Homo sapiens: one gene and its partners. The protein of the gene in region 2 interacts with the protein of the main gene of each other region in a biochemical or structural test. Each region holds a gene or a part of one and is shown on either strand. Other genes may lie near its edges.

Region 1 (8,029 bases), on a different chromosome or scaffold from region 2:
TTGCAGCTAGAATATTCAGAAAATCTGAAATTTTCCACACTACTATGTTTTAACCTCACAAATATTTGTGTTTATAGGAGCTGGGAGTGAGCACAAATGCAAATTATAAGATTACTTTCATGTTGGATAGTGCTGCTATGATAACAGTACATACTCCAAGGAGAGGATTAATAGACGTAAGAAGTCATTTTATTTCTATTTAATGACACCATGGTTATTTTCCAGTGTACTTTTTATGTTTATACCTATGGAGTAAATAGTGTAGAGATTCATCTGAGTGAATAATAAAGTGGTTGAGTTTTGACATAGGAAAATGTATTTAAGGTTAAAAGATTTTTTTTTTTTTTTTTTTTTTTTTTTGAGATGGAGTCTCATTGTGCCGCCCAGGCTGGAGTGCAGTGGTGCAATCTCGCTCACGCAAGCTCCGCCTCCCAGGTTCACGCCATTCTCCTGCCTCAGCCTCCTGAGTAGCTGGGACTACAGGCACCCGCCACCACGCCCGGCTAATTTTTTCGTATTTTCAGTAGAGACGGAGTTTCACTGTTGTTAGCCAGGATGGTCTCGATCTCCTGACCTCGTGATCCGCCTGCCTCGGCCTCCCAAAGTGCTGGGATTATGGGCGTGAGCCACTGTGCCCAGCCAAGGTTAAAAGATTTGAATTTTAATGATAAAATTAGGGATCTTGAAGTAGGACTGTCAAGAAAGGAACTTGTGATTGTGGGTAATTGACCTGTGTTGATGACAGCACAATGTTACTGGGCAGAGTAGGTGAGAAAAATACTGAATATTATCAAGGAAGATACTAGAAACAAGCGAAAACACTCACCCTGCCCTGTTTGAAACTGGTAATAAAAGCAGATGCATCATGATGCATGTACTTTGGGATGATGCTGAAGAATAGCAACAAGAACAATCAGAGAAAAGGGTTTGGCTAACCAGTTATTTTACTCATCAAGTAACTACTCATACTATTAAGTATCTACTGTCTGGAAGGCCCTGTGATAGGCACTGTTGGGAATAAAGAGATGAGTGAGACACAGTCCATATCATTTGAAAGCACCCAAACTGTTAGCTGGGCTGGATAATGCATGCCTGTAATCCCAGCTACTCAGGAGGCTGAGGCAGGAGAATTGCTCAAACCCAGGGGGCGGTGGTTGCAGTGAGCTAAGATTGAGCCACTGCACTCCAGCCTGGGTGACAGAGCAAGATTCTGTCTCAACAAAATAAAGTAAAATAAAAGCACCCAAACTAATAGGAATTGAGGAGAACTTAGGATACGAGGAAACCTTAGGGGAGACAGTATTAAAATTATCAAAACCATAAATAGAATGATTTAAGGGCATGGGGACTTGTTCTATAAAGGAAATACTGCATGTATCGAGAAAAAGATAACTTACTATATACTAAAGTAAAATAATACATTTACAAAATCTTAACATTAAAAATTACTTAGGGAAATGTTAAACATGTTTTATAACAGTGAAAAATTAAAGGAATAAAAATAATCCTCAATATCCAGCAATAGGGCATTGGATATATAAATTACTGCTACCCATATAAGGGACTGTAGCTCGTCATTTGATGTAGTAGGATATGTAATGATTTAGAAATTTTCATGACACATTTAAGTGAAAGAAGTATTTTAGAGAACACTGTTGTAAGCCGTTAGAAAATAGTTCTTAACCTTTGTTTGGTTCAGGATTACCCTTAATTTAACAAAGAACCTGTCAACTCTCTGAGGCTGCTCTTGTTTATAAAAATGCCTGGAGTCAATGTATCAGAATATTGAGTTGTTGCCCTTGGTACTGACTAGATTATTGATTTAAAATTTTCCTTTATGCTTTTCAGTATTTTCATGTTTTTTTTCTGTAGTTAGCAATATTACTTTTCTAATTGAGAGCAAAGTAGTTTGTGTTTTGGGGAACATAGGTGCTTGACCTAATTAACAAATGACAGCACTTTTTAAGAGGATGTAGGATTTTTATTCTGGATGTCATAAAAAATGACCTCTGTTGTCATATTTCTTGAGGCTTTTGTTAGCTAAAAATCCACAAAATATGGCTTATTGTATTAATTCTTATATATTTGTCTTCATTTCGTGGGGGGAGTAGGGGGCGGTTTCTATTTCGGTAGTAAACAAGATCAGTAGCAAAAAAAAATCAGGAAAGTAAAATTTTAGTAAATTAAAATATTTCATTAACATTTTTTGTAATAGGCAAGACAATAGGAAGGAAAAAGCTTTCTCCAAATTAAATTATAGGAGGAAAAAAATTTTTAAGTTACAACTTTTATCACTATTTATTTCTTACCACTTAATCTCATATATTTATTATTACATTCTGTTCTCATAATACCGTAAGACTTCTGTCTTCAGCAAAAGTAATTTTCTAGAAATTTAAAAAATTTTCTGAATGTGTAATACATTTGCATGACTAAAAAAATAGTAAAGTACATAATGAAAAGTCATCTTTCACCTGGTACCTAGCCACAATCAGTGTTATTTCCTGTGTGGTCTTACAGAGACTTTACACAAATACCAACAGGTAAGACTATATAAGAAATTATTTATTTGAAGCTTCAGTTTAAGAATTCAGAAATAAGAGTAAGAATTTGTAAAATATGGTGCTTCCGAAGTTAAGCAATCAAATTCCCTAGAAATTATGCACCTGTGCCACTGAGTTAAAGACAAAACGAGTTTTTCCTCTATAAAATATTCAAATTATTAATTGAAAAAGCCAAATACAGTTTTTTTTTGACTAGGGTGTTCTAGTTTTGAAAGCAGACTCCATGTGACTCCCAAGCTCTGAGAAGGAATGTGTTAACCAAGGAAGTCATGTGACTGCATAGCAGACATCTAAACAATTACTTTGGATTTTTAAAAAATTAAATAATTTATTTATTTTACCCAAAATCTTCACGTTAAAATTATGGAAAGTTTTATAATGGGTTTAGTTCAGTTGGACATGAACAAACCTTTCAGAAGTTTTAATATTGCAAAATGCATTGTGCTTTAAAGTGGGTTGCATTTAATGATTAGCTCACACCTGTCTTACAGGGGGAAAGGAACACTTTGGCATTGTTCTGCAGGGCAGTTTGCAGTATTCCTGCTTTTAAGACAGGATGAAATATTGATAAAATTTGAGTTAAATGTAAACTTTTATTCTAAGGTAAAGCCTCTTGGTGTTATATGGGGAAAGTTTTCGGAGTTTTACAGCAAGAAAAACACCATTATGTTTGATGACATAGGGAGAAATTTTCTAATGAACCCACAGAATGGACTAAAGGTAAGACATACTTTTACTTGTTATGTGCTCATGTAATCTGGGCTGTGTGGTAGAACTTTTGTAGTAAGCACTGTTGAATTTCATATATTTTTGGAAGTACTGTATTCTTATGTCATAGGCGAGAAAAGTTTAAGAATAATTCATATAGAAATTGAACTTTGTCTTTTTTGCATTGATGTCTCCATAGTTAGCTAGTTCATCCAAGTATTTGTTTGTTTATTTATTTATTTATTTTTGAGACGGGATCTCACTCTGTCGCCCAGGCTAGAGTGTGGTGGTGCGATCTCGGCTCGCTGCAATCTCCACCTCCTGGGTTCAAGTGATTCTCCTGCCTCAGCCTCCTGAGTAGCTAGGATTACAGGCACGCACCACCACACCCAGCTAATTTTTGTATTTTTAGTAGAGACAGGGTTTCACCATGTTGACCAGGCTGATCTCAGGCTCCTGTCCTCGTGATCTGCCCACCTCGACCTCCCACAAGTGCTGGGATTACAGGCATGAGCCACTGCGCCCGGCCCAAGTGTTTTATTTTTAATTAGCTCTGTGGGAGCAACATGGGCTTCCCAACATTGACTTTTAGCATCCAAAGTGAAATCATTAGTTATTTTTTTAGGTATACAAATCTTGGCATTTTAAACATTCTGGTTAGCTTGAGAAATGGCAGTAAGGGTACTTTGTTTTTTCTTTTTAAACTGAAACTAAAGACGTTTTTGAAAATTCCTAGACGGCAAGTACAGATCTTAGAATTAGACATTGCCAGAGCTAGAAGGAACCACAGTCATCTCTTGCCTACCTTCTTAACTTTGGAAACAGTCTGAGGTTGAAGAAGTTCCTGACTTGCCCAAGATTGTATATGTAACTGGCTAATGACAGAATTTGGGTTAGACTCTAGTGACTTGGTTCCTAGGTCAGTGACAATCTTAGCATGCAACTGCATGCAGTCTTATGTGACATTTCATCCTGGTAACAGTATAAAATTGGTAAGAGTGAAATTTGAAATTTAAAAGTTTCTGGTACCCATAGTTGATTACATGTTGGCGCAATATGAAAATGGAAAAGATAGCTCTATACTATGGCACTATTGCACATGGAGTCTCCATTCGAAGTGGCAGTCCTGACACTGAGATGTTTTCATTCTCAGTCCTAAACTTTTCTACTAGCTGGGTCCTTGGTAGTTTTAAAAGACAAGAGAGAAAAACTTAAAAGTACATTTTTTAAACCTTTCTTACAGACTGTTGATTTGAGTTTTTGTTTACAATGAGGATATTTTAGGGAAAGAATACTAATCTAGGTAGTGAATTGCCATAAGTATAAAAACTGTTGACTTGGAAGAAAAGTGGTTATGTTGTCCTTAATGGTTTCTGTTTAAGGCTTGGAGAGAAGTGCTTTTCTTAATATGTACTGCACCAGGTAAAGGTACAAAAATGTATTCTTGAGTCTTGAGAAGAAATGTGGTTGATGTAAACCTAATTGTTTGTGAAACGAATGGTTATTACCTGTTCTTGCAAGGAGGTGATCCCATGATGGTCAAGGAATAATTTTGGAGGAGACGTTTAACTTTAAAAAAAAAAATACAATCATTAGTTTCATGTTTGTTTAAAAGAAACTTTGTTTTCCTAACCAACATTTGAGCTCCATTCATCTCTTGATGCAGGGAGAGATGTTATTGTAAATGTCTAGTTCTTTATGTTACTTTACAGTAGGGTTTTTAAAAGACTGTACTCAGTAGACCCACTGAAGGAATTCCTAAAAATACGTATGTCCCCATCCCCTAAATTCTAATTCCAGAGGTAGATTTAGACACTCCACAGGCTGTCCTTGTGTGTCTTTTATTGAAAACCTCTTTTTTATAAAATTAATCTACCCAAGATAACACTTCATGAAAACCTCTTTTAAGGTTAAAGATTAAAGGTTAAGATTAAGATTAAAGATCTGCCCACGTCGGCATAGAAACAGGTGGGGTTTTCTGACAGGGTCTTGCTCTGTCACCCAGGCTGGAGTGCAGTGGCATGATCAGAGCTCATTGCAGCCTCGACTTCCCTTGCTCCAGTGATCCTCACATGTCAGCCTCCCAAGTAACTGGGACTACAGGCGCACGTTACCACACCTGGCTAATTTTTGTATTTTTGGTAGAGACAAGGTTTCGCCATGTTGCCTAGGCTGGTCTCGAGGTCCTGCACTCAAGCGATCCACCTATCTCGGCCTCTCAAAGTGCAGGATTACAGGCATGAGCCACTGCGCCCAGCCCAGAAAGAGTTCTAAAATGGAGAAATATCCTCAAATGCTGTGTTTTGTTATCATGCTTTCATAATGCACTTGGTAGAAATCTCAAAGATTTCATGTAGATCTTAAAAATAAGACTGCTCATTTTTAAAATAGTTAACTTCTATTAAACATAAGCTTGTCAGTCATAAGGTTTGAAGTACATGGAAGGTACTGTGAATATGAATTTAGAATTACACTAAAAGAATGTGAATCTTGGTCATGGATAAAGCAGTTTATCGGCTGAAAACTCCATTTTTATTGTCTGTACAAGGAAATTATGATATAGGAGAATTCAGCTTATCTAGACAGTCTTAAGTTTCTAAAAATGCTTCCTTGACCTGAGACAAGATGATGGTTTCCTGTCCTTTTAGTGATCACTTAGATCAGTTTTTAAAAATGTACAGTAAACAGTGGTTATACTGGAGCAAGTGAAGTCAATTAGGTGCATAGATTTTCACCCTTAATTTGTTTATTTAAAATTTTAGAACCAGAATCATTAGAATATTTTAGTTTTGTTGTTTAATAGTGCTTAAGAGCAAATGTTTGGAAAGTAAAAATAACTTAGCAGAGCCTTGGGTTGAAAATCTTATTTACTACCCACCAACCCTGTAATTTCCTGCTGTTTAAATTTGGACACTTTGGTACATTATATATTAATTGCTTAAAAGTTAATTTGTTACCTTTCAGTCCTTAGGAAGTGAATGAAGGAATACTTTAAAACATTACCATATCACCCAGGATTATGCAGAAACTCATTTCACTACATCCTCATATCATGACTCTGTTTACTCCCATCCCCAGGGCCTAAGCAAGGCCCTGTAAAGCGTCGTCTTCAGCCCCCACATTCACTGCTGCTCGGAAACAGCACTGCTGCACTACCTTTTTGGAAGTGGGATCTCCCACAAATGCTGATTTCTGAGGAGACTCCCTTTGACAGCTCTTGACTGGTGCCCTTCAAGCAGTATGGGAGCCAGCTAACAGTGTGGAGGTCACTGGCACCAAGCTGTTCTGATGAGAGTAGAACACCTGGGAAAATTTTCTTCTGTCCATTTCAGATGGGTGGTGTTTTTCCAATGACAGAAGAAAAGTATGTAAAAAATACTTAAACCCTTCCCTACACTTAATAGGTATGGTAGTAGACTCCTTTGGGCTCACTCATTGTTCTTGCTTCTCAGTAAGTGACAATGATTAAATATCATTCATTTTTCAGTGTTAACTGTGTAAAATTAATAACTAATGACCAAAAAAAAAAAAAACTAATGACCAATTTGCATTTTCTCCAAATCAAAAGAATATACTAATACTTTGCTAAGTATGATGAAATCAGTCCTTACATGTGTGCTTTAGGAATATGTGTGCTTTAGGAATATGTATGATTTTTTTTTAACGATAACAGAAAAATTCAAATGTAAACAGAACTATATAAAATTGCTTAAACCCCCATGTAGATATCATTCAGTTTAAATTAGCTTATTAATTCATGGATGGTTATTGTTTGCTCTATACGCTACTTCCCTCTCCTTAATATTTTGAAGTAAATCTTAGTCATATCATATTATCTAAAATTAATTTAAAATTATTGAAAGACTATCTTGAGTTGTATAAAGATATTTGAGCAGGTGTCTTTTACAAAACAGCAGAATTCTTTACTGAAGCTATAAAATAAGGAAAAGTGCATAAATTTATAGTTCAACAAACTGTAAAGATAATTCTTGTAAAAAATTTTATTCCACTAAAATTACTCATGATTTTCCTTTCCAAAGATAAACACTATTACCATCTTGATTTATAGTCCTCTAGTCTTTTTAAGCATAGATTTATGCACAAATCTAGATGAAGATTGCATATAAACATATGCATTCATAGCACCGCCACTCAAGTCAAGATATGGTATTCCTTACTAATTGCAGTCCCCTACCTCGGTCTATTATTCTGACATGTGTGGTTTGAAATAATGCTTTTTAAACTCTTTTTCATCATAAAATAGATCAGCCTTAAACATTTGGAAAATATGGCAGTTCTTTTTATGGAAAACTCTTGCATAATTAAAAATGATTTTAACAGAGAATTTAATGATAAAGAAAAATGCTTATGATAAAATGTAGGAGGAAACAGGTTATATAAATGTATAATGATATCTCAGCTATATAAAAATTTAATAGAAAAATAAAATAAAAATCATCGTTAAAATTTATCTCACTGTACTGTTAGATCAAGCTGGTATTGGGGTTAAATTTTTATGAATAAAATAATGTGAATGAAATTAATTAGAAGCAACTAGAATGATAGGAGGCGGGAAAGGCTAAGTAGTTTTGCAAAGTAGAGTAGCTGTGTATGGATTCAAGTGCAATAAGAAAGCTGGTGTTGTCAGGTTCAGATTGAAAAGATAATGTTAGGTAAAATAGGTAGAAGAGTTTGTAATTTGTAAACATTATACATGACTTTCTATTTAGGCTAATATAAAAGTAATTTTTAGTATT
Region 2 (8,029 bases):
ACTTACTCTAGGCAGATCAAGCAAGTTGAAGATGACATTCAGCAACTTCTCAAGAAAATTAATGAGCTCACTGGTATGTATTTTTAAATTCCCATTTCCTTCCTTTAAATGTAATGTGTGAATAATATCAAGAGTTTAAATACAGATTTTACTCCTTCATGATTACAGATTTAAAAAAAATCATTATTCTTCCTTTCTGTTAAGAAATTAGATCTCATTTAACCATATCTTTCACTGCTTTTTACAACCAGGTTTAATGCTTATGCAGTTAAGAAATAAGAAATAGTACCATCTTCTAAGCCAGTAATATTTCTGTTGGTCAAAACCCAGTTCAGTAAACTTCAGTTAACAAGTCAAAAAACTTTTTTGGATAAAAATAAGATCTCACAACATAGTTTTGCTTCAAGTAATTGGGCTCTTTCCTGGAACTTTTTGGGGGGAACTTGAATGATGAAGTTTTATAATATTTGACCTACACAAAAATGTCAAATGTGGCATTATATTTTTGGCTTGACAATTACTTTAGGGCAGGGTGTAGTTTTCAGCTGGGGTGATTTTGCCCCACCCTCCCAACCCCTCCCAGAGGACACTGGGCAATGTCTGGAGACATCCTTGATTGTCATGACTTTGAGAGAGGGTGGTGCTGCTGGCGTCTAGTGGTGAGAGGCCAGGGATGCTACTAAACAGTCTATAATGCACATGATAGTCCTCACAATGAATGATTCAGTGCAAAATATCAGTAGTGCTGAGGTTTAGAAAGCTTATTATAGGGTGATGCATTACATTTTAGTAAATTTTGTCATCTTTCTCTATGTAGGTATTAAAGAATCTGACACTGGCCTGGCCCCACCAGCACTCTGGGATTTGGCTGCAGATAAGCAGACACTCCAGAGTGAACAGCCTTTACAGGTTGCCAGGTATGCACGGGTGCTCTGTGGCAACTTACCTTTGTCTGTATTTTCAAGCACTTAATGTTAGAGTCTCAGGGATAATGCAATAGTTCATAAATAATTTTGATTCCAAATTCCAAGTAAATAAAGCTTTCTACAAAACTGGGGTTAAAATTTTATGCCTTAAACAATTCTTCAAAAATATATGAAGGCATAATCATTTAAAAGATTTAAATGATATAAAAAGATGTAGAGCAAGAAATGAAAAACTCCCTTCTCATACTTGCTTTCCCGTTGCCCTTTCCTCAAACGTAACTACTGAAATAGTTTGGCCCTCGTAATCCTCTGTGTATCTTCCTGTATTTGCATGCAAAGAAACATATCCTGATTTTTTTTTTTTTAGATATAACTACATGTTTTGGGAATCTTTGTCTTTAATATAGGTATACTTATTTCTTTTTTCTTGTGTTTTTAAAAAATTGCAAAAATTGCATAATGTGTAGATGTTAGGCTGTAACAATTTCTGTTACTATACACAGTGCTGTAGTGAATATTCGTGTTAAATGTTTCTCAGTGTATGTGCATACATTTCTGTAGGCTAGCTTACTACAAGTGGAATTCTAGGGGTCAAAGATATTATAGTTTTAAAATCCTGTGAAAATTACTTTGGCCAGTTTATACTTTTACCAAGAGGCTTTGAGGCAAATGTCCATTTGTCTGATCAATGTAAGATACGCAGTTTTCAATTTTTACACTTTTGCCATTTGAGGGAAAATAATTTTAATTTGTACTGTGTTGATTACTAGTATGATAGCTACTTCTTTTGTTTACTAAACATCTGTATTTCTTTGACTACTCATGTTTTGTTCTTGGGTTGTTTCTTGTTAATTTTAGAAACAGTTCATATATTGTACATATTGTCTTTTCTTAAGTATGCTACAAGTATTTTTCCCTAGTCACTTTTAACTTCTTGGTACCTTTTGTTGTACTAATGTTTTACATTTTTAGGAGATAAAATATACCAATATTTCCATTATACCTTTTGGGTGTTAATGTTGCTTAGAAAAACCTAGCCCAATTCAAGGCTATAAACATATTCTCCTCTGTTTATAATCCTTTTAAAAATTTTGTTTTTATTTTTAGTTCCTAAAAGCTAAAGATTATTTTTATTTCCCATCTACTCACCCTCCCTACTTCACAATTTCCATCTTTTCTCACTTTTATTTATTCACTCACTTTTTAGTTTTATCATGGTTTTTGAAGGGTTAAATAGTTCAGGCTGGGCACGGCAGCTCACGCCTGTAATCCCAGCACTTTGGGAGGCCCAGGCAGGCAGATGACTTGAGGTCAGGAGTTCAAGACCAGCCTGGTCAACATAGTGAAACCCCGTCTCTACTAAAAATACAAAAATTAACTGGGTGTGGTGGCGGGCGCTTGTAATCCCAGCTACTGGAGAGGCTGAGGCAGGAGAATCGCTTGAACCTGGGAGGCAGAGGTTGCAGTAAGCTGAGATTGTGCCACTGCACTTCAGCCTGGGGTGACAGAGTGATACTCTGTCTCAAAAAAAAAAAAAAAAGAAAAGAGTTAAACAGTTAAATAATAACAACTGTATTTCCCAATTTCTCTTCCCTAATGACACTCATTTTCACCTTTTTTAGCTGATTATTTTGGTTTTCGTCTTCATGGTTCTAATGGATATTGCTATATCTTGTGTATTATAGATTCCTACTTCTTGATTTTTTAGTTTTAGGTATTATCTTTTGGCTTTCCATCATGGAAGATGAGGATTTTGTTTTGTTTCCTCTGCCTTCACCTTGAAGGCACACCTTTCCTATCCCCTCATCCTTCCTATGTAATTCTGTTATAATTTTGGTTAGATCAGTATTCAGTGTTTATATGATTATGGCTATGTAAACACTATTCACAAAGAGCCAAGTGGTAAGCTGTGATTGCTTTTCCTTTCTTGTACCACTTCTTTTAGTGGTGGTTGTTATAACGTCTTGTTTTTTCATTTGCCTGGTTTTCTGTGCATATATTATGAACTCAACCTCCCACTTTCTCTTGATTGTCTAAACTGCTCTTCAGATGCATTAGATCTGTTCGTTTTCTCTCAGTTATACCTTAGTTGCATCTGGTGTTCTCTCGGTTTCATTTTCCTTAAGTTTTTCCCAGCACCTTCTGACCTGCTTTGGTTTGGACCAGTTGTCCTTTATGCCTGTTTAATGACAATTGTTGTCTGACTTCTCTACCCTGGAGATTGCCCTTTACCTCTCTCCTGTTGCTTGGTCTAATACATCCTCTGGTAGCTTCTTGGAAAAGGGTCAGTTGGGAGGTAATATTTTGAGACTGCATATGTCTGAAAGTGTCTTAGCTGAGTATACAGTTCTTTTCCCTTCAAAATTTTGAAGGCGTCGTTCTGTTGTCCTTTGCCTCCCAGTGTTACTCTGAAGCCATTCTGATCCTCAGTCCTGTATATGTGGCCTAATTTTTCTCTGAAAATTGTAGAGTCTTCTCTTGTTCTATTTTGAAATTTCATGGTGATGTGCCTTGGTGTTGGTCTGTTTTCATCCATTGTCCTGGGCTCTCTTGTCCTTTAGTAAGGCAAATCTTCTTGAAACTATTTGTTAATTTCTTTCCTTCCGTTTTCTTGGACCCTTATTCCTGAATTCTCTTATTTGGATATGGGGCCTCCAGGATTGCTCCTCTAATTTGCTAATCTTTCCTTCCTGTTTTTCTTCTTTTTGCCTTTTTACTTTACTTTCTATGAGCTTTTCTTTATCTTTGAATTTTTCTGTTGATGTTTTTTTCCTCCCATTTTTCTTCTCGTAGGTTTTTAATTTCTCAGGTAAAAAAACTCAGGTTTTTTATTTCAAGGCTCTTATCTTTATTCTTTCATTTTTGTGTGTGTGTTGAATGTTCTGCTCTTATATCATGGTTGTAATATGTTCTTATCTCTCTATGGTAAATTAAAAAATCTAGGTACATTTTTCTAGGCCGTATGAGGGGAATTTTCTTTTTTCTGTAAAGCAGTTAGAGGGAAACTTTTCATATAGATTTTTCATAACAGACAGACTAGCTAAAGAGCCCTATACCCCTACAAGATCCCAGGCCTTAAAGAAAGCAAAGATTATTTTGAAAAAGTTTCCATTGATTTTAGTCTCATACTCTTTGCTTAAAACTCTTGATAAAATTTGTGTATGTGTAATTTTTAGCTTGTGAATTTTTTTTTTTTTTTGAGACAAGGTCTCACTTTGTTACCAAGGCTGGAGTGCAGTAACATGATCTCAGCTCGCTGCAGCCTCTGCTTCCTGGGCTCCCACCTCAGCCTCCCAAGTGGCTGGGACCACAGGTGCATACCACCCCATGTCTGGCTTTTTTTTTTTTTTTTTTTTTTTTTTTTTTTTAATTTTTAGTAGAGACAGGGTCTTGCCATGTTGCCTGGGCTGCTCTTGAACTCCTAGGCTCAAGCCATCTGCCCACCTTGGCCTCCCAAAGTTCTGGGATTACAGGTGTGAGCCACCGTGCCCAGCCAGCTTATGAATTTTTTTAATAACAATCTTACTGATATAAAATTCAGATATCATGAGGTTCACTCTTTTAAAGTATACAATTTAGTGATTTTTAGAATATCTAGAAAATTGTGCATTGATCATCACTATCTAATTCCAGAATAGAATATTTTTGTCACCCCAAAAACAAACCCAATACCCATTAGCAGTCTTCATTCCCGTCTCTTTCCAGCCCCTGGCAACCATTTATCTACTTTCTGTTTCTATGAATTTGTCTATCCTGGACATATCATCTAAATGGAATCATATAGTACATGGCTTCCTTCACTTAGCATATTTCAAGGTTCATCCGTATTCTAAAATAGATGGAACTTTTTATGGCCAAATAATATTCCAGTCTAATTTCTCTATCTGTATTCACTATTGGTGAGACATTCTTCTCATCATTCCTATAAACTCTTTAGATATGGTTTCCTTTAGCTTTTTGAAAATATTTCTTGTACTGATTTAAGGTTTTTGTTTGACTGGGCGCAGTGGCTCATGCCTGTAATCCCAGCACTTTGGGAGGCTGAGGCAGGTGGATCACTTGAGGTTGGGAGTTTGAGATCAGCCTGGCCAACATGGTGAAACCTGTCTCTACTAAAAATATAAAAATATTAGCTGGGCGTGGTGGCAGGCGCCTGTAATCCCAGACACTTAGGAGGCTGACGCAGGAGAATTGCTCGAACGTGGGAGGCGGAAGTTGCAGTGAGTCAAGATCGCGCCACTGCACTCCAGCCTGGGCAGCAGTGAGATTCCGTCTCAAAAAAAAAAAAAAAGTTTTGTTTAATAACACCAACATCTAGGCTTCTTAAGGGACAATTTCTATTGACTGATTTTTTTCCCCTTATGTATGAGCCATAATGTCATACATAAGGGAAAATGCATTTCATAATGTTTTGCATCTCATAACTTTTTGGTGATAACTAGACATTTAAAATAATGTAATGTGTCACCTCTGGAAATCAAATTCTTCCTTTCCCCAGGGTTTGGTATTATTGCTGTTTGTTGTTCTTGTTTTTCCTTTCAGGTTTTTTGGTCAGCCTCTTTTTTTTTGGTAGAGAATGGGTATAATTCTTCTTCCCTAGCAAACATGGTTGGTAACAGAAAACAGAGTCCTTCACACAATTATGCTATCAGGACAAAGCATTCTTTTTTAGCCTTGACCTCCTGGGCTCAAGTGATCCTCCAGCCTCAGCCTCCTCAGTAGCTGGGACTACAGGTGCATCCCACCACACCTGGCTAAGCCAAAGCATTCTGTACCTTACTTTTAGCTCTACCTATGTGCGCACTCCACAGGCTATTTTTGTATTTCTCTGTAATTCTTGCTGTGGCTTATGTAGCAGCTTTCTAATGTGAGTTCTGTTTTTTGTTTTTGTTTTTCTTTAGTAGATAGATACTATAGAAGGGGAAAGGCGGTTGACTATTTTATACTGTGATGTGCATGGCATTATAAATTCATTTTTACCAGGCCATATGGAAATGAATATAATTAAGTTAAAAATAGCTTCTACTGGCCGGGTGCAATGGCTCACGCCTGTAATCCCAGCACTTTGGGAGGCCGAAGCAGGTGGATCACTTGAGGTCGGGAGTTTGAAACCAGCCTGGCCAACATGGTGAAACCCCGTATATATTAAAAATACAAAACAATTAGCCGGGCGTGCTGGCGCATTCCTGTAATGCCAGCTACTTGGGAGGCTGAGGCAGGAGAACTGCTTGAACCCAGGAGGCGGAGATTGTAATGAGCCGAGATCGCACCACTGCACTCCAGTCTGGGCTCCAGAGCAAGACTCTGTCTCAAAAAAAAGAAAAAGAAAAAAAAACAAGCTTCTACTGCCTCAGTTAAAAAAAGAAAAAAGTAGCAAAAACAATAAAAATGGATTTAAAGTCCGGGTGTGGTGGCTCACGCCTGTAATCCCAGCACTTTGGGAAGCTGAGGCGGGCGGATCACCTGAGGTTGGGATTTCGAGACCAGCCTGACTAGCCTGAGGTTGGGAGTTCAAGAGAAACCCCCTCTCTACTAAAAAAAAAAAAAAAAATACAAAATTAGCTAGGCATGGTGGTGCATGCCTGTAATCCCAGCTACTCGGGAGGCTGAGGCAGGAGAATTGCATGAACCCAAGAGGTGGAGGTTGCAGTGAGCCAAGATCACACCATTGTGTTTCAGCCTGGGCAACAAGAGTGAAACTCCATCTCAAAAAAAAAAAAAAAAAAAAAAAGAAAAACGGATTTAAAGTATAAACTCAGGAAAAGAATGAAAACCCATTTATTACTGAATTTGGTGTAAGACAAGATGACCATCTTTTTGTAGGGAAAATAAAAACGAGAGCAACTTAAGATATACAGGAGCATCACTAATAATAAAGGAATACAAACTATGGAAATCAAGAAATCAGAGAACTTCTTAATGATGAGATATTTGGGTTTAATTTTCCAGGAGAATGTATTTGAAAATTTTATGACTTGGCTAAAGTCGAATGGACCTTTGGAGTTGGGTATAGAAAAGGATCTTTAACAGTGTCCCAGTTTCTGTAGTTCTAGTTTATACCTGTATATTGCACACTCAGGATATAATCTAGTTAGTTGAATTCATTATTAGTGGCTTAGGTTCCTTATTCTAATCAAGCTTTTTGCTGTGTTAGGTGTACAAAGATAATCAATGCTGATTCGGAGGACCCAAAATACATTATCAACGTAAAGCAGTTTGCCAAGTTTGTGGTGGACCTTAGTGATCAGGTGGCACCTACTGACATTGAAGAAGGGATGAGAGTGGGGTAAGATTTCTATTTACAATAAATACTTTTCTTTCACTAAGGATACTGTCTCACATTCATATCCTTGGCTTTGTAGTGAATAAATGGACTGAGTTCCTTGGAATACCAAAGGATGATCTAGTAATGTACTATAGTTGAAAATTCTGTCTTCTGCATCTGCTTCCTAACTTCCCATCGGCTTCGCTGACTCCCCTACTCCCACTGTTGTTTATTATGAATGGCTTCAAATTTCAGAGTTGAGGTTACCAGTCCATTTAAGGTAACATGGTATAGGTTGGGGGAGTACTTGCTTTAGGATAGTTGTGATGCTAAGTGTGTTAATGTCTATAGAATACATAACAACTCACTTAGTAAATTAAAAAAAAATCTCCCCTCCCTCCTCAAAGGTTTGATTGCTGTTGGATAGGTTGTTTGCGACATTAGACATGTAGTTTAGTATCCTCAGATTTCATGCTCTCTTTATTTCTCTTTATATAATTAGGGACTCTGTCTCTCTCTTGTTTTCTTAAAGTATGGTTTTGGGGATAAAGGACTAAACATAAAAGCACTTTGAAAGCTTAAAGAATGTATTAATGACTATCTTTTTTACTTCCTTAGCGTGGATAGAAATAAATATCAAATTCACATTCCATTGCCTCCTAAGATTGACCCAACAGTTACCATGATGCAGGTAAGAAACTATGGGAGGGAAAAGGAAGGCTATGTCTTTTTTTTTTTTTTTTTTTGAGGCGGAGTTTCACTCTTGTCCAGGCTGGAGTAGAATGGTGTGATCTTGGCTCACTGCAACCTCTGCCTCCCGGGTTCAAGCAATTCTCCT
Region 3 (8,029 bases), on a different chromosome or scaffold from region 2:
ACCTCAAACAGCACCTAATATCTTTTACTGAAACAATCTGTTTACACATCTGTCTCCTTACTTAGTCTCTAAGGTAGCAGAAGGTAGAAACTATACTATGCACTTGTGCATCCCCAGAGATGGCACAGGCTCTGGCTCACTGTTAAGTACTCAAGTGTTGAGCTGGCAGGGTCCCAGAAGGACCTATGGAAGTGAATACCTACCGTAAACACTTTTAAGGCAGCACAGTGTAGTTCAGGGAAGGGCTGACTACTAATGCCACGGAAGAGCTCCAGTGGATCCCGAGATAAAGAAGAAAACCAGGATTCTGTCATCCTCAGAAGGTCATCAGTCTGCTGCTCAGGCTACAGGAAAGAAAAGGAAAATCTCATCAAAAGTTAACTGATCTGGAGAAAAGCACTTATTTAGAAGTCAGACACCTGAGTGCTGATGGCACTCTGTCATTAATTTGTTGTGTGAAACTGGCTAAGTCTGGAGGACTCTTTCTCAAATCCAGCCCAGACCTTTCCCAGTTTTCTTTGAATGTGGTTGATTAAGCAGTCTCTAGAGTCTCTTCAGTTCTAACACTCTATGATTCCATTTTAAATTAAAAATGTCACTAGTCATATAATGAGGGTTATCTTCTTGTATTTACTTCATCACATTTATCATGTTGATTCATACAGATTTATTCTCCCAAACATATCCCACTGTCCTTCATTATTTCCCTACCTACTTACTGGTAAGTACAGAAGAGATGAAATTGCATCCAAACATCTAATTTTTAGCTCCACTGGGGCATTCTTTGATTGATGTCCTATTCTCATAAGCAAGCGTTCAAAGCGAGTTCCTTTGAAGGATAACAGTGAGATTCTTCTTTATTATGGTAAAATATACACAACATAAAATTTACCATTTTAACCATTTTTAGTGTATAGTTCAGTGCTATTAAGTACATTCACACTGTTGGGCAACCATCATAACCATCCATCTCTAGAACTTTTTCATCAACCCAAACTGAAACTCTGTATCCATCAAACAATAATTCCCTTTCTTCTCTACCCTCATCCCCTGCCAACCACTATTCTACCTCCTGTGAACTGGACTCTTTTAGGCATCTCATCTAAGTGGAATCATACAATATCTGTCCTTATGTGTTTGGCTTACTTCACTTAGCATAATGTTATCAGTGGCGCAGGCTTCCTCCATGCTGTAGCATGTGCCAGAATCTCATTCTTTTTAAAGGCTGAGTAATATTCAATTGTATGTATATACCACATTTTGTTTATTGATTCATCTATCAATGAACATTGGGTTGCTTGCACCTTTTTTTGGTTATTGTGAATAACGCTGCTATGAACATGACTGTACAAACATTTGTTTGAGTCTCTGCTTTCAATTTTTTTTGGTATATACCTGAAAGTGGAGCTGCTGGATGAAGGAAATATAAAATGTACAAGGGTTACAATTTCTCCACATCCTAACACTTATTATTTTATGGGTTTTTTTTTAAAGTAATAGCCATCCTAATGGATATGAAGTGAAAAATGAGATTTTTTTAAAGTATGCTCTCATACACTATGACCTCTACCAACCTAAACCAATACAAAAATAAGCATGTAGTCAGAGAACCAGTGACAGGCCTAGAACACATAATTACACGCAACACAGCATATATAAGGCAAAGTTATAAAACTGGAATCAAAGGACCTGGACTTGAGTAGCAGCTGCCATAATTTGTATGACCTTAGAAATTTTCTTAACTCCTCTAAGTTTCATCTACCTTATCTGGAAAATGAAAATGACAATGTATGTTCTTTGCAGGACTGTAAAACGATTGTCATAGGTAAAAGCACTTAGAAAACGACATATAACAAAAATATTAGCTGTGATACACAACAGCGTATTAATTTTCTTTTTTTCTTTTTCTATTTTCTAATTTTTATTTTTTTGAGATGGAGTCTTGCTGTGTCACCCAGGCTGGAGTGCAATGGCGCAATCTCGACTCACGGCCCAGGTTCAAGCGATTCTCCTGCCTCAACCTCCCGAGTAGCTGGGATTACAGGCGCCTGCCATCACACCTAGCTAATTTTTGTATTTTTAGTAGAGACCATGTTGGCCAGGCTGGTCTCGAACTCTTGACCTCAGGTAATCTACCCACCTTGGCCTCCCAAAGTGTTGGGATTACAGGCATGAGCCACCTCGCCTGGCCTCTTTTTAAATTTTTTTTTTGAGATGGGGTCTCACTCTGTCACCTAGGCTGCAGTGCAACTGAGTGATCAAGGCTCACTACAGCCTTCACCTCCTGGGCTCAAATGATTCTCCCACCTCAGCCTCCCGAGTGGCTGGGACTATAGGCATGCACCACCACAGCTGGCTAATTTTTTTTGTTGTTGTTGTTGACGAAGCTGGTCTTGAATTCCTGGGCTCAAACGATCCTCCCGCCTTGGCCTCCTGAAGTGCTGGGATTACAGGTGAGATAATTTTCAACATATGTGTCTCAAGAATTTTAATAATTGGGCTGCATATTATTTTGTGTGTAAAATTTGTTGTGCTGTTGATCCTCATGGATGTTCCATAAAAGTATCTTTCTTTCTTTCTTTTTTTTTTTTTTTACAGAGTCTCGCACTGTCGCCCAGGCTGGAGTGCAGTGGTGTGATCTCGGCTCACTGCAACCTTTACCTCCTGTGTTCATGCCATTCTCCTGCCTCAGCCTCCCGAGTAGCTGGGACTGCAGGCATGCACCACCACGCTTGGCTGATTTTTGTACTTTTAGTAGAGACAGGGTTTCACCATGTTGGCCAGGCTGGTCTCGAGCTCCTGACCTCAAGTGATCCACCTGCTTTGGCCTCCCAAAATGCTGGGATTACAGGCATGAGCCACCATACCTGGCCTCTTTTTTTTTTTTTTTTTTTGAGATAGAATTTCACTCTGTCACCCAGGCTGGAGTGTAGTGGCATGATCTCAGCTCACTGCAACCTCCACCTGCCAGGTTCAAGAGATTCTCCTTCCTCAGCTTCTCAAGTAGCTGGGACTACAGTTGTGCAGTACCATGCCTGGTTAATTTTTGTATTCTTGAGTAGAGATAGGATTTTGCCATGTTGCCCAGCCTGGTCTTGAACTCCTGAGCTCAGGCAACCCACCCACCTTAGCCTCCCAAAGTGCTGGATTACAGGCATGAACCATTGTATCTCTTAACATGCCAAAAGTATCTCTTAACATGAAATCTTATAACAAACTTTTATTTTCCTTTCTCAAAATTTCATAAATATTCACAACAACCCTGAGAAGCAGTTGTTATGCCATTTTTATAAATGAAGAAAATGAGGCCTAGAAAAGTGAAGTGAGTAAATGAAGTTCAAAAAGCAAAGTCAGGGCTGGATACAATGGTGTGGACCTGTAGACCCAGCCAATCAAGAGGATGAGGCAGGAGGATTGCTTGAGCCCGGGAGTTCGGGGCCAGCCTGGGTAACAGAGAGACACTCTCAATCTCTTAAAAAAAAAAAAAAAAAAAAAAAGAATAGAAAACCCAAGGACATGAATCCAGACCTTTCTGACTCTAGCCCGTGGTCTTTGTACCATGAAATCTAGTCAAAGAAGACATCATAGAGGGGAAACAGGAAACAATGTTTGGTTGAAATCGATTGGTAGAAACCTAAACCAATGAAAACCTAAACCAGTGAAAAGTCAAAAAAAAAAAAAAAAAGGTTTTCCGTAATAATTATTAGATTTTCAGACATGAGTACAAGGTCATGGTTAACAAGACTGCCACCCATAAAATAGTTTCTACAATGTAGTTAACCCACCAGCAAATGAACTTACATATTGAACCCCTGTCAAAGATTAAGATATCCCTGAACAGGGCCAAGTCATACCAACCTGTTTTCTGTAAAACCTGTTTTCCTTCAACATTGGATCCCAAGATTCCAACTGTGTCTACAGCTACACCAATCATAGTGGGGTCCTGACTTTCTATCATTTCAAAGACTTTTTCCACAAAGATAGGATAACGCTCACAGATCTGTTGAGGACTATCCATGACAGCCAGGTTTCCAAAAAACTTCACGAATCCTAAAGAGATTTACAAAAATATATTTTAATAGGGGAACAAGACAGCATGAATTGCGGGCTCTATGACTTCACAGGAACAGAAATGAACTGCAGGCCAGAAAAGCATAGAAAGGTTAGAGTAGTGTGTTGCCTGGAGATCAGAGAGACCATTAGGAGATTCTGAAGGACCTGTGATGTGTGATCCTGAGAGAGGGCGTCAATGGAGCTGGGACCAGCTATTGAAGTACTGGCATATGCAAGAGGGAGAACAAAGAAAAAGGACCAGTGGATACAAATTACAGGAAGGCAAGTTTAGACTCATTACCAGGAAGAAATTTTTAAATGGATATGTTCATTAATAAAATAAGCTAGGCTACCTAAGGCAGGCATACATCTCCAATTTCTGGAAGTGTTCAAGAAAGACTAATCAACCAAAACCCAGAATAGAATGGCAAGAGTAGATCCTACAACAGATAAAGACTCCCACTCAGAGATGTGATTAATCTGTGAAACATACTGTAAATGTCATTACTAGTATTTTTATTTATGTTTTTGTTGATATTCAAAAAGAAAAATATCCTAATGTTCTAAATAGCACTGATGTTTCCAGAAAACCAAAGTCAACAGTACGTAGCTCCAAGAGCAACAGATTCCACCTCAATAAGAGGCTATAGGTATCTTTTTAAAAAAATTAACTTTTAACTGACAAAAAATCATATATCTTTATTGTGAACAATGTATTCTGAAATATGTATATTTAAAAATTATTTTTTCTGCTTTCGTGAAAAATGTCATTAAATTTAAAAATTTTGGAGGGAATGCACTGAATCTATATAGTGCTTTGGGCAGCATGAACATTTTAATAATATTAATCCTTCCAATCCATGAACATAGGATACCTTTCCATTTATTTGTGTCTTCTTCAATTTCCTTCATCAGTTTTTATAGTTTTCAGTGTACAGATCTTTCACCTCCTTAAATTTATTCATAAATATTTAATTTTTTTTGAATGCTATTGTAAATGGGAATGTATCTTTGATTACTTTTTCAGAGTTCACTGTTAGTGTATAGAAATGCTACGGATTTTTATGCACTGATTTTGTATCCTGCAGCTTTATTGAATTTATTTATTCATTCTAACAGTTTTTTGGTGGAAACTTTATTCTATATATTAATAAAACATTACATCACTTGCAAACAGGGAAATTTTCACTTCTTTCTTTCCGATTTGGATGCCTTTTATTTATTTATCTTGCCTAATTGCTCTGGCTATAACTTCTTGTACTTTGCTGAATAGAAGTGGTAATTGTGGGCATCCTTGTCCTGATCTTTTTTTTTTTTTTTTTTTGAGATGGAGTCTCACTCTGTTGTCCAGGCTGGAGTGCAGTGGCGCGATCCTGGCTCACTGCAATCTCCACCTCCCAGGTTCAAAGGATTCTCCTGCCTCAGCCTCCTGAGTAGCTGGGACTACCGGCACCCACCACCATGCCCGGCTAATTTTTTGTATTTTTAGTTGAGATGGGGTTTCACTGTGTTAGCCAGGATGGTCTCGATCACCTGACCTCATGATCTGCCTGCCTTGGCCTCCCAGAGTGTTGGGATTACAGGCATGAGCCACTGCGCCCGGCCTTGTTCCTGATCTTAGAGGAACGCTTTCAACTTTTCACCGCTGAGTATGTTAGCTGTGGGTTTGTCATACATGGCCTTTATTGTGTTGAGATAGATTCCTTCTATACTTTATTTGTTAAGAGTTTTTATCATAAAAGAAAGGTGAAATTTGTGAAATGCTTTTCCCGCATTACTTGGTTGCTGTCTTTATTCTGTTAACATAGTATATCTTATTTATTGATTTGTATATGCTGAACCCTCCCTGCATCCATAGGATAAATCCCACTTCATCAGGGTGGATGACCCTTTTAATGTGCTGTTGAATTTGAACTTGGTTGCTCTAGATATCTTCTAAACGAAATCAGCTCATTAAGGAAATCAGCTCTAAAGGAAAACAATCCCTGTCCACTCCCTACCCCAACCCCCTGATGTCAGAGATAACTCAGAAATAAAACACGCACCATCATTTCCATAGGCATCAGTGTTCCTTACCTGGCAGATAGAAGCTAGAGAAAGGGTCTGAATCTGCCCCAACAATTATATTAGAAATTTGGTCAATTACTCCTTCTTGAGCAAGATATTGTCGCCCATGATGAGTATATGCCAGTGATGTCACCATTTCTATACAGGTGGCTCTAAAATGTCAGAAGGACAAAAACAAGGAGATTTTGCACAGGATTTGCATAGTTTATAAATTGCTCTCATACAGGTTATCTTATTTAATTCTTCTTATCACATTCGAAAGGTCAATAATCTTGGCTCCTCTTTTCACATGAAGCCCTAAGGCCTAGAAATTTGCAGTGACTTCTCTGTAATCATATTGTTATTATAGGCAGAGTTTAGATTTAAATCTTGACCTTCTGATTTGAAGTCCACTATTGTTTCCACTATAACCTAGCTGCTTCCTAAAATATTTTCTAAATTTGTGTTTTATTTTGAAATATCATACACAAAAGTAATGAGAATACAATAAGCCCCCATATACACATAACCTGATTTTATGGTTATGAAGATTTTGCTTTACTTATTTCATCTCTTTTCCCTACTTTTTGCTGAACTATTTTAAAGCAAATCCTAGTCACCCTGCCATTTACCCCTGCATACTTTAGTATGCATCTCTACAAAACACATATGTTTCCTTACACAATTATAATGCCACTGCCACATATTAAGAAATTAACAATAATTCTTTGGTATCATCTCATATCCAACCATGATCAAAGAAAATAACTAAAAAATTTATTTAGTTGGTGGTTGATCCTAAACTGTTTTGACTGACCATTTACAGGTTTTTTTCTATGTCACAAAATTTGATACAATGCTAAAAAATAATTAACAAAATTAATTGTCTCATTAGGTTGAGACACTCAAATGCACTGAAGCAATGTAACTAGTGACTGATTTACTCATATGGGTTTAATAAATTCAGCCATGTTTAAAGAACACAGGACAATCAGAAAATCATTTAAGATAAGAAAAATCAAAACCTATATACACAAAGATAACTATAATGCTATCATAACAGCAAAATACTTGAAGCAAATCAACTGTTCAACAGTGAGGAGGTATTAGTAAACTGTGGAATATCAACAAAAGAACATTTGGCAGATATTAAAGGGGATTTAGGGAATAGCGGGTGGAAGAGACTGGAATTAACATTTCTTTGAGAACCTATGTCAGCCATTGTACTGCTTTCTATGGTCAATTAGCTTAATTCTTACAATATCTTTTTATTTTTTTTGAGACGGAGTTTTGCTCTTGTTGCCCAGGCTGGAGTGCAATGGCACGATCTTGGCTCCCTGCAATCTTCACCTCCCGGGTTTAAGCAATTCTCTTGTCTCAGCCTTCCCAGTAGCTAGGATTACAGGCACCCACCACCACGCCCAGCTAATTTTTTGTATTTTTTTAGTAGAGACAGGGTTTCACCGTATTGGCCAGGCTGGTCCTGAATTCCTGACCTCAGGTAATCCATCCGCCTCAGCCTCCCAAAGTGCTGGGATTACAGGCTGTGAGCCACTGCACCTGGCACAATATCTTTTTTAGTTACTGTTCTGAGAGATGAGGAAACTGAGATGTAGAAAGCTTATAATTATCTGTCCAAGGCCAAACAGCTAATAAATAGTAGAGAGGCATGCAAGCCAAGTCTTCCTCATTTTGAAAAGCTCATATTCTTTTTTTTTTTTTTTTTTGAGACAGAGTCTTACTCTGTTGCCCAGGCTGGAGTACAGTGGTGCAACCTCCACCTCCCAGGTTCAAGCAATTCTCCTTCCTCAGCCTCCTGAGTAGCTGGGAATATAGGCACATGCCACCATACCCAGCTAATTTTTGTATTTTTAGTAGGGACAGGGTTTCACTATGTTGGCCAGGCTGGTCTTGAACTCCTGACCTCATG
Region 4 (8,029 bases), on a different chromosome or scaffold from region 2:
TTTATGTGAGAGCCTCCATCCAGCTCAGCTTGTCACATTGCAGCCTTGTGACAGGCTGAAGCGCCCTCCCATGTGATCTGAGCTTCTGAGAAATATTAAAGCAAGCTGTGCACATGTGATGGCATTTAAAAGCTGGCTTTCTAGGGGAAAAAAATCTAAAAGATGGGAACCCATGTAGAAGACTCATGTCCTGGTACCTCTTGTGTGTCTCGCAGTTGAAAGTTATTTATAATGAAATGAAGGTAGACATGTTCTCTGAAGCAAAGTTGGAATACTTTGTTATCTCTGAGTGTGTGAAATCTTTAGATGGAGTATCCTCCATTTTATCTAAAACAAATATTTTAAGAATCAGATTAACTAAAATTACTTAGGTAGGTTGATCGCTTGGCCTTAAACTTTAAAGCCAATGTCACATGAGACTGGGCCTCAGTGTAGAAAATGTAAGCTAGCATACTTAAACTGGTTTTAAGGAGTGACCCAACTTTCATGCATAGGGCAAACATTCACACATATTTTGTGCGTGGTGGGCATGCAAATACATACATATTTATCATTTGAAAGCATTTTTTGCTCCTATTATGCTCATTTAAAAACCCAGCTGAAAGTGTTTATTAATAAACTTCCTAAGTGATGTTGAAATGTTTACACTACCCTGCTCCAAAATGAGTCAGCTAAATTCCAGTTAATATTTAAAGAGACAGTGTCAACTAAATTAATACTGTTGTTAAAAGTAAGTTGTGGATCTTGGTCACTCCACACAAGCTAGATTGTCTTAATATTTGTATGGTGCACTTTTACTTACAAAAGGGAAGATAAAATGTTTTGGGGAATAATTACCAGGGGTCTGGCCAGGTCAAAATTGGTTAGTCCCCTTCTCCCATCTTCTAATTTTGGTAGTTAATACTTGTTAAAACATCGTTTTTTAATAACTCACTAAAAAGTGTATTCTAGTATGTAGTTGGAAAAAATGACTGACCACAAGTTACAGCACACGAATTTTCCTTTAAGCAAATGCTCTCAAATATGCTTTTTGTACATATGCTTATACATGTTTAAGATGACATGAAAACCCTCCACAACTTTATTTTAAAATAATTTTTCTTTAATATGTATTTTCTCATCCAGAGGAAAACTTATTAATAATTTAGCACAGCGTTTTAACAAGACTTTTAGAAAAGCAAATCTTCCTTGGAAACAAATGCTTGCTATGTAAAGCTTTTTCTGGTAACCCAGCATTGAATATTAACCATTACTAAAGGTTATGTGTATATATTGACTTTAATACATTGAATTTGAGCTTGGAACGGTTTTATTATTTTCTGGTATGAGGAAGACAAGCACTTGTTAAAATTAATAGTGCCTTTGGCTGAGAAATCTGGTTCATAATTTGTGTATTGCAGGTTCCTAGGCACTGGCTTTGACATACTCTGAAACTTCAAATGGAGAACGTAAAAGGAGTTTCGTAAACCAGCTGACCCTAAATTCTTAGAGATTTACTTGTTGGTGCCAGGGTAGCAGGAAGGGCTACCAGTTCTCTTTTCAGCCTTATATGAAGATGTTTCAGCATTAAAAAGTACAGATGCTCTGCCTCAGCAGATTTGTCAAATTACTGATGAAGCCCAGATATGTACAGGTGTTTTAAGAAAACTTTATTCATCCAGTTTAAAGAACTACCTATAAATATCAAGACTCAGTGATAATTGTGATTAGCCAATTAAGTAAAAACATTTGAAATGGTCTGCCTGTAGTGCAGCAGAGTGAAAAGTTAAAGATACCAGTTTCCCAAATTGATTAAAACATAACCCTGAGAGCTAACAGACCTTTTCATAAATTGAAACCAAGAATAGTGATAGGTAAAAATACCCTAATAATTGATAAAATTTCTTTTTGGGTTTTTTTTTGGTCCTAAAACAGTTTGCTTTTATAAAGGCAACAAAATATTGATAATTATCTCTGCCCACCCTTTTTAATGATTAACGGAATTTGGGCTTTTGTTAAAACTTGCGTAGCAATTACAACGGTATACCGATGATTATATTAGACTATATTTTGGTGATAACACTAATTTCTGAAATTTCGTTTCATCTATAGCAGAAAAATATGGCTCAGGAGACTAACCAGACCCCGGGGCCCATGCTGTGTAGCACAGGATGTGGCTTTTATGGAAATCCTAGGACAAATGGAATGTGTTCAGTTTGCTACAAAGAACATCTTCAGAGGCAGCAAAATAGTGGCAGAATGAGCCCAATGGGTAAGTTATTTCCAAGGAAAAACACATTTGAAAGAACTGGTGGACAGAAATACAGAACCAAGAATTGGGGCTGAGAATGCTGAAAGCACATGGAGAGAACACCTGATAAGAGCTTGAAATTCAAGCAACAGCCCAAGTGCTTGACATGACTGATCAGGAATGAATGACTATCTACAAGCATCTTATAGCTTTTCAGTTTTCTTTTTTGGGGTTATTTTGTTTCACACTTGTGTTCATTGGATTGACTTTTTAATATTTTTTGTTTGGATACTCAAGTATAGGATTACAGCACAGTGAATGCTTATATCACTAACCTAATTAAATGCAAGTATTTATTACTACGTCTTGATACTAAGTGAGTTTTTGTAGTGTTCATTGGTTCCTTACAAATCCTTTTTTTAAATAGGAACAGCTAGTGGTTCCAACAGTCCTACCTCAGATTCTGCATCTGTACAGAGAGCAGACACTAGCTTAAACAACTGTGAAGGTGCTGCTGGCAGCACATCTGAAAAATCAAGGTAAGATTGAACGTTTCAGAGTTTTTATGATATTACAAAGAAGAAATCAAGATGTCTGTACTGGTCCAATAATAAGTTAATAGATACCCTTGGCTTTGCAATCGAGGATTTCAGTGTCTTTTAATACATGACTCTTAAGTCATTGAGTAAAGATGTGTGTTACTTACACCTGACTCCCTAACCCCCTCAAGGATACTGTGTTGGAAATGCTGTGCTTTTTTATTTCTTTGTAATTGAGGTTTAGGGATTGTCGAGTGAGACTGTAGAATATTATTGGGCCAGACAAGGTGTTTTGGCAGAGCTGCCCTTTTGCCCTTAAACAAGTTACAGGCACAGCTAAAAATCCCTAGCTGGTTGTAAAATATGGTAACCTATACAAAATGCAGCCTCGAGTTCATGAGCCATTTATCAAACTTTTTTCTCAACCATTTGTGCTGGGCATCCAATTTTTTTTTAAACTTTAGATTATCTAGCTCCATTTGCTCATTTTGGAAATATTCTATAATTTAAAGTTGAACTGACAACTTATTCATTGTCTCAAGAAGTACCCTTAACACCTTTAAAAATTGTTTGCTTGAACTCAAATAGAAATGTGCCTGTGGCTGCCTTGCCTGTAACTCAGCAAATGACAGAAATGAGCATTTCAAGAGAGGACAAAATAACTACCCCGAAAACAGAGGTGTCAGAGCCAGGTATGTTTTTCATTTAATACTTGTTCAGTTCTGAATTTGATAGTGCAAGAAATGGCTGGTGGGGGGATTCTTTCCTTCCCATTGAAGGACCAAAGAGGAGGGAGAGCCATAAAATATAGGCCAAGCAAAGAACTACTATCTTTAAAAGTATCTTGAGTATGAGTATCTTGAAGTGTAAAATAGTCATATTTATTCTCAGTTTCTTCTCTGCTCATCCCCTGCACTACCCTTGTGCATAATGGGCAAAGTCTGTAATCTGGAGATTGGATGTGTTAAAAACTTGATGAAGTTAAATTTCAAGGGTATAAGGAATAATTTTATAACCAAAAGCAGTAACTTTAGTTTTGATATTGTCAATGTTGTGGAAAACTTTTAAGTAGAACAACATATTTGAACACTAGAACTTATTTGAAGTACAATATTCCTATCATATTTTGTGGGAGTTTGAAACTCAGTGTGGAAAGGCATTTTGGTTTTCATGAGATATGGTGACTTTGGAAACTTTGCTTATATAGCACAACCAGAAGTGCCCTGATGGTGGAAGAAGACTGACTTGAATTACCTGTACTAGGCCCTAGAACAAAAAGATTTCTGTGCTTTATATAGTGCACGTAGCTTATTTTATCAATTTGTTCTTTTTTGGCAGAGTGCTGATTAAATGCAATATAAAACTTCTGTTGTGAAAAAATACTGTCAGTGGTTATACAGTCTGCTTTGGAGGCTGGCTTTTGCTAACAGCAGTCAAGTTTGTTTATTGTATTAATCTTACAAAGTTAAGGCCAAATTCTCAAGTTTGGCAGGTGAATCTATATTTGGCATTTTGAAATGAGCTCCATCCTTAAACTGACCACATTAGTTTGCCCGTGATGCCTTTGTTTGGGTTTTTGTTTTTGGTTTTGGTTTTTAAATACAAAATTACTCTGACCTTGGAAGAATAGTCTTGGGTTAGAGCTAGTCTGCATTTATTATTACTTAGTAGGCATTCTGTGATTCACTGCTATTTGCCTTTTCTGTGTCATTTTCTTATTCCCCCTTCTTCCCTTGTCTCAGGAGCCGTAGTTCATTTTTCAGATGTGGCCAAAGAAATGGCTGACACCCTCCCTCTACCCCATACAACTATTCCCCTAGATTATTCTTTATCCTCATGACATCAGGATAAACATTAATGTTGTCACAGTAGCAGTAGGTAGAATATTGTTCGTTTAGTCTAATATTAGGCTATTTCTCCCAGTAGATTCATTGCTAATGCAATTGAATTATAAATTTGGGCAGAGTTTTAGAGAAAATTGCCATTAAATCAATCAGCTTGTTGTAGGAGCTTGTCTATATGCTAATAGCATTGGTGCTGGCATATTTGGGCAGTAATTTCAGCATTGCATACATAAATTTGCTATTGTTACATTTGGATTAATATTAAAACCTGAGTTTATAGTGTTTCAGGTGTAGTTGAATTATATGTAAGTAGATATAAATTTTGTTATTTTTGTGTTAAAGAACTAGTGGCAGTGTGGGCTTTAGTACAGTAATGTATTTTTTGTTCATTGTGAGAAATTTTATTGATGCCATGTGTACACTGAAACTTAAAGCCTTTTTAGGTGGAGAAACGGTGGGACTGTTTGTAGATGCTATCTCTGTCGATAGTGGATGCCCATTTTAGATAAGATTCTTGTTCTGCCTGTGGAATCCTTAATAGTTTAAAATCAATACTTCTCGAGTAGTTTCTAAAGACTGTTTGCCGATCTGTTTTTAAAACCAAGGTTTAAAAAAATCTTTCAAGTCTTCCTATGATGTTTAGTGCACCTGTGAAAATGGTAAAATGATTGTTTTGGAATTTTTGGATCTGACGTTGATTTAGGGATGAATGGTTTGAGTTTTATTTGTCAAAATTTGCTGTTTTTATATCTACAGGATTTTTTTTCCTATAAGCATAAAATCAAAGTTGGCTACTGTTATTTACTGTGATGTAATGAATTTGAACTGCCCTGATTGAAAAGTTTGCATTTAGGAAATTATAACGTGGAAAAACTGAGCATATGATTAACATCTCCCAGCTCTTTAAAACAGAATTAGGATTTTGTTTTTAGTACTGGCTGTTACCAGTGTTTTAAAGGAATTTCTTGAGTGAAGCGATCATTTTACAAAATTAGAGAAGCAAGTAGTATGGTGATTGGCAGGAATTTCTCAGATTTGAATCAAGTTCTGATGTTAAAATGGAAGATTCTGTTTAAAGCTTGTATTTTCAAGGAATACTTATAAACATTTTTATCAGGCATCTTCCTGTTTCTCTTAAATACTTCCTTTTTTGACTTAAAAATGTTAGCCAGTGAATGCTTGACAAATTTGTGTTTTTGTCCTTTTCAGTTGTCACTCAGCCCAGTCCATCAGTTTCTCAGCCCAGTACTTCTCAGAGTGAAGAAAAAGCTCCTGAATTGCCCAAACCAAAGAAAAACAGATGTTTCATGTGCAGAAAGAAAGTTGGTCTTACAGGTATTACAAAACACAAGACAATGTATGTTTTACTTCTGCAGTTAACAAGGAGCTTTTGGTCACTCCCTAAGAGACTAGTTGGTCTTACACATAAAAAAAAAAAAAAAGCCTGACTAGCTGTAGTCTAGGAAAGGTGGAGGAGGTGGTATTGGGGTGGAAAGAAGTTGGGTTTTACTTCCATTTGTCTCCTAATCATATAAAACTATTAACTCAGGCCCTCTTATTTTATTAGATTGATAAAAAGTTTTTGTATACCTAGGGAAAATGTTACTGAACTAACAGTAAGCGCCACCTACTTTGAGCTATGCAGGGAATGTTCTTGGTGCTTTTTTTCTTGTCTCCTTCAAATCTCAGACCTTGATGGTTGTTTTCACTTGAGGAAGCATTACTTAAGATATGGTAGGACTGTGTTTTGAATCCAGCTTAGCCTAACTCCAGAGCCTGTGTAAATTTTATCCTGCGTTGCATCTACAGGAGTCGATAGAGGGAGAGCATCTGGGAGAAATTAGCTGGCAGATAGCCCATTTTGTTTTCTCCACGTGGTTTGGCTTACCAAACACTTCGCTATTGCCCTTGCAAGGAAAGACTGAACATAGTTATTTGAATTTCTCACCATGTCAAAGGAAGTTAAAAGTTCCTTTTCCAGGTTAACGTGATAGACTCTGTAAGAGTTGACTGTGTCTTATCACCAGGAAGTGGAAGAAAAGAGTTCACTGTCTTTTATGTTACAAAGCAATGAAAATCTGGTTCCTTTTCTATAGTGACTAAGGCTTTTTTTTCTTTTAATTGCCTCAAGTTCTCAAATGACTCTACTTCTTCGTTTGTACAGGGTTTGACTGCCGATGTGGAAATTTGTTTTGTGGACTTCACCGTTACTCTGACAAGCACAACTGTCCGTATGATTACAAAGCAGAAGCTGCAGCAAAAATCAGAAAAGAGAATCCAGTTGTTGTGGCTGAAAAAATTCAGAGAATATAAATTACTTCTTGTGAAGAGACTGAAACTTTGTTTTTATTTTAATATATCGTAGGAAAACATTAAAGAGCAGATGCATGGCCATTTTTCTTTGATGTTCTCCAGAGTTTTACATTACACTTGTCTGTCTTATAATTGATATTTTAGGATGTTTGGGTGTTTGTTACAGGCAGAATTGGATAGATACAGCCCTACAAATGTATATGCCCTCCCCTGAAAAAAATTGGATGAAAATCTGCACAGCAAAGTGAAACACACAGATAATAGGAACAAAATGTAGTTCCCATGTGCCAAACAAAATAAATGAAATCTCTGCATGTTTGCAGCATATCTGCCTTTTGGGAATGTAATCAAGGTATAATCTTTGGCTAGTGTTATGTGCCTGTATTTTTTTAAAATGGTACACCAGAAAAGGACTGGCAGTCTACTTCTACCATAGTTAAACTTCACCCTCTTTAATTTCACAACATATTCTTTGGAAGCAGGAAGAAATGCTCATAAAGAGGATCAGACCTTCTTTCCCGTGAAACCAGTATTTGGCGCCATATATAAGCCTGGTTAAATTGGTCATCTAAAGCTGTCAAATAAGACATTCTGTGAAAGGTAAACATCGAAACTGGTTATAAGTAAAACCATCAAGCCAACAACAGGGTCTTGAGATAACCTTTGAAGCTTATTGTACTGGCCTGCACCAGAAGATGTCTGCATTACTCATTGCTAAAAATGTGTAGCACAGAACTGCACTAGGATTAATTTGTTTACAAGAAGAAATTTAAACTCTACGTTTGGTTTTCACATACAGCAGCTCTATTGAATAACATGCATCTGAATTTTAAGTTGCAAAGGTATCTGAATAATTTTTCATGTGCATCTTTTGTCGAATGTTTTGGTTCAAGAAAGAATGTTTAAAGCTTTTTAAAAGACTTCAGTTCTTAATGTAACTGTACCCTTCTGCATGGAAAATCATAACCAACATGGCTGCAGTAGACTTCTTAGTGGTATCCAGCACCACTTGCAGAGGGCTGCTTTATCATATTGTACTTGGGTGTAGGACTCTAGTGTTCTTGGGTGTATTGCATGGGCTGCATTATCTACAGCATTGTACA

The links.
Region 1: the proteins of PSMC2 (region 2) and UBLCP1 form a complex in vitro, tested with the Homo sapiens proteins (one study listed by BioGRID).
Region 3: the proteins of PSMC2 (region 2) and PSMD5 form a complex in vitro, tested with the Homo sapiens proteins (one study listed by BioGRID).
Region 4: the proteins of PSMC2 (region 2) and ZFAND5 are reported together in a solved structure, tested with the Homo sapiens proteins (one study listed by BioGRID).

What each region holds. Positions count from the first base shown.
Region 1 is NC_000005.10:159,275,071-159,283,099, forward strand, and holds part of UBLCP1 (ubiquitin-like domain-containing CTD phosphatase 1), read left to right. Parts: intron 1-77; coding exon 78-176; intron 177-3,167; coding exon 3,168-3,284; intron 3,285-8,029. UniProt on the Homo sapiens protein: Dephosphorylates 26S nuclear proteasomes, thereby decreasing their proteolytic activity. Recruited to the 19S regulatory particle of the 26S proteasome through its interaction with 19S component PSMD2/RPN1.
Region 2 is NC_000007.14:103,354,877-103,362,905, forward strand, and holds part of PSMC2 (26S proteasome regulatory subunit 7), read left to right. Parts: coding exon 1-73; intron 74-817; coding exon 818-917; intron 918-7,080; coding exon 7,081-7,212; coding exon of another isoform or gene 7,213-7,216; exon of another isoform or gene 7,217-7,591; intron 7,592-7,809; coding exon 7,810-7,882; intron 7,883-8,029. UniProt on the Homo sapiens protein: Component of the 26S proteasome, a multiprotein complex involved in the ATP-dependent degradation of ubiquitinated proteins.
Region 3 is NC_000009.12:120,820,636-120,828,664, forward strand, and holds part of PSMD5 (26S proteasome non-ATPase regulatory subunit 5), read right to left. Parts: intron 6,273-8,029; coding exon 6,130-6,272; intron 4,051-6,129; coding exon 3,859-4,050; intron 830-3,858; coding exon 720-829; intron 345-719; coding exon 204-344; intron 1-203. UniProt on the Homo sapiens protein: Acts as a chaperone during the assembly of the 26S proteasome, specifically of the base subcomplex of the PA700/19S regulatory complex (RC).
Region 4 is NC_000009.12:72,354,850-72,362,878, reverse strand, and holds part of ZFAND5 (AN1-type zinc finger protein 5), read left to right. Parts: intron 1-2,091; 5' UTR 2,092-2,100; coding exon 2,101-2,251; intron 2,252-2,657; coding exon 2,658-2,769; intron 2,770-3,357; coding exon 3,358-3,461; intron 3,462-5,822; coding exon 5,823-5,948; intron 5,949-6,777; coding exon 6,778-6,926; 3' UTR 6,927-8,029. UniProt on the Homo sapiens protein: Involved in protein degradation via the ubiquitin-proteasome system. May act by anchoring ubiquitinated proteins to the proteasome. Plays a role in ubiquitin-mediated protein degradation during muscle atrophy.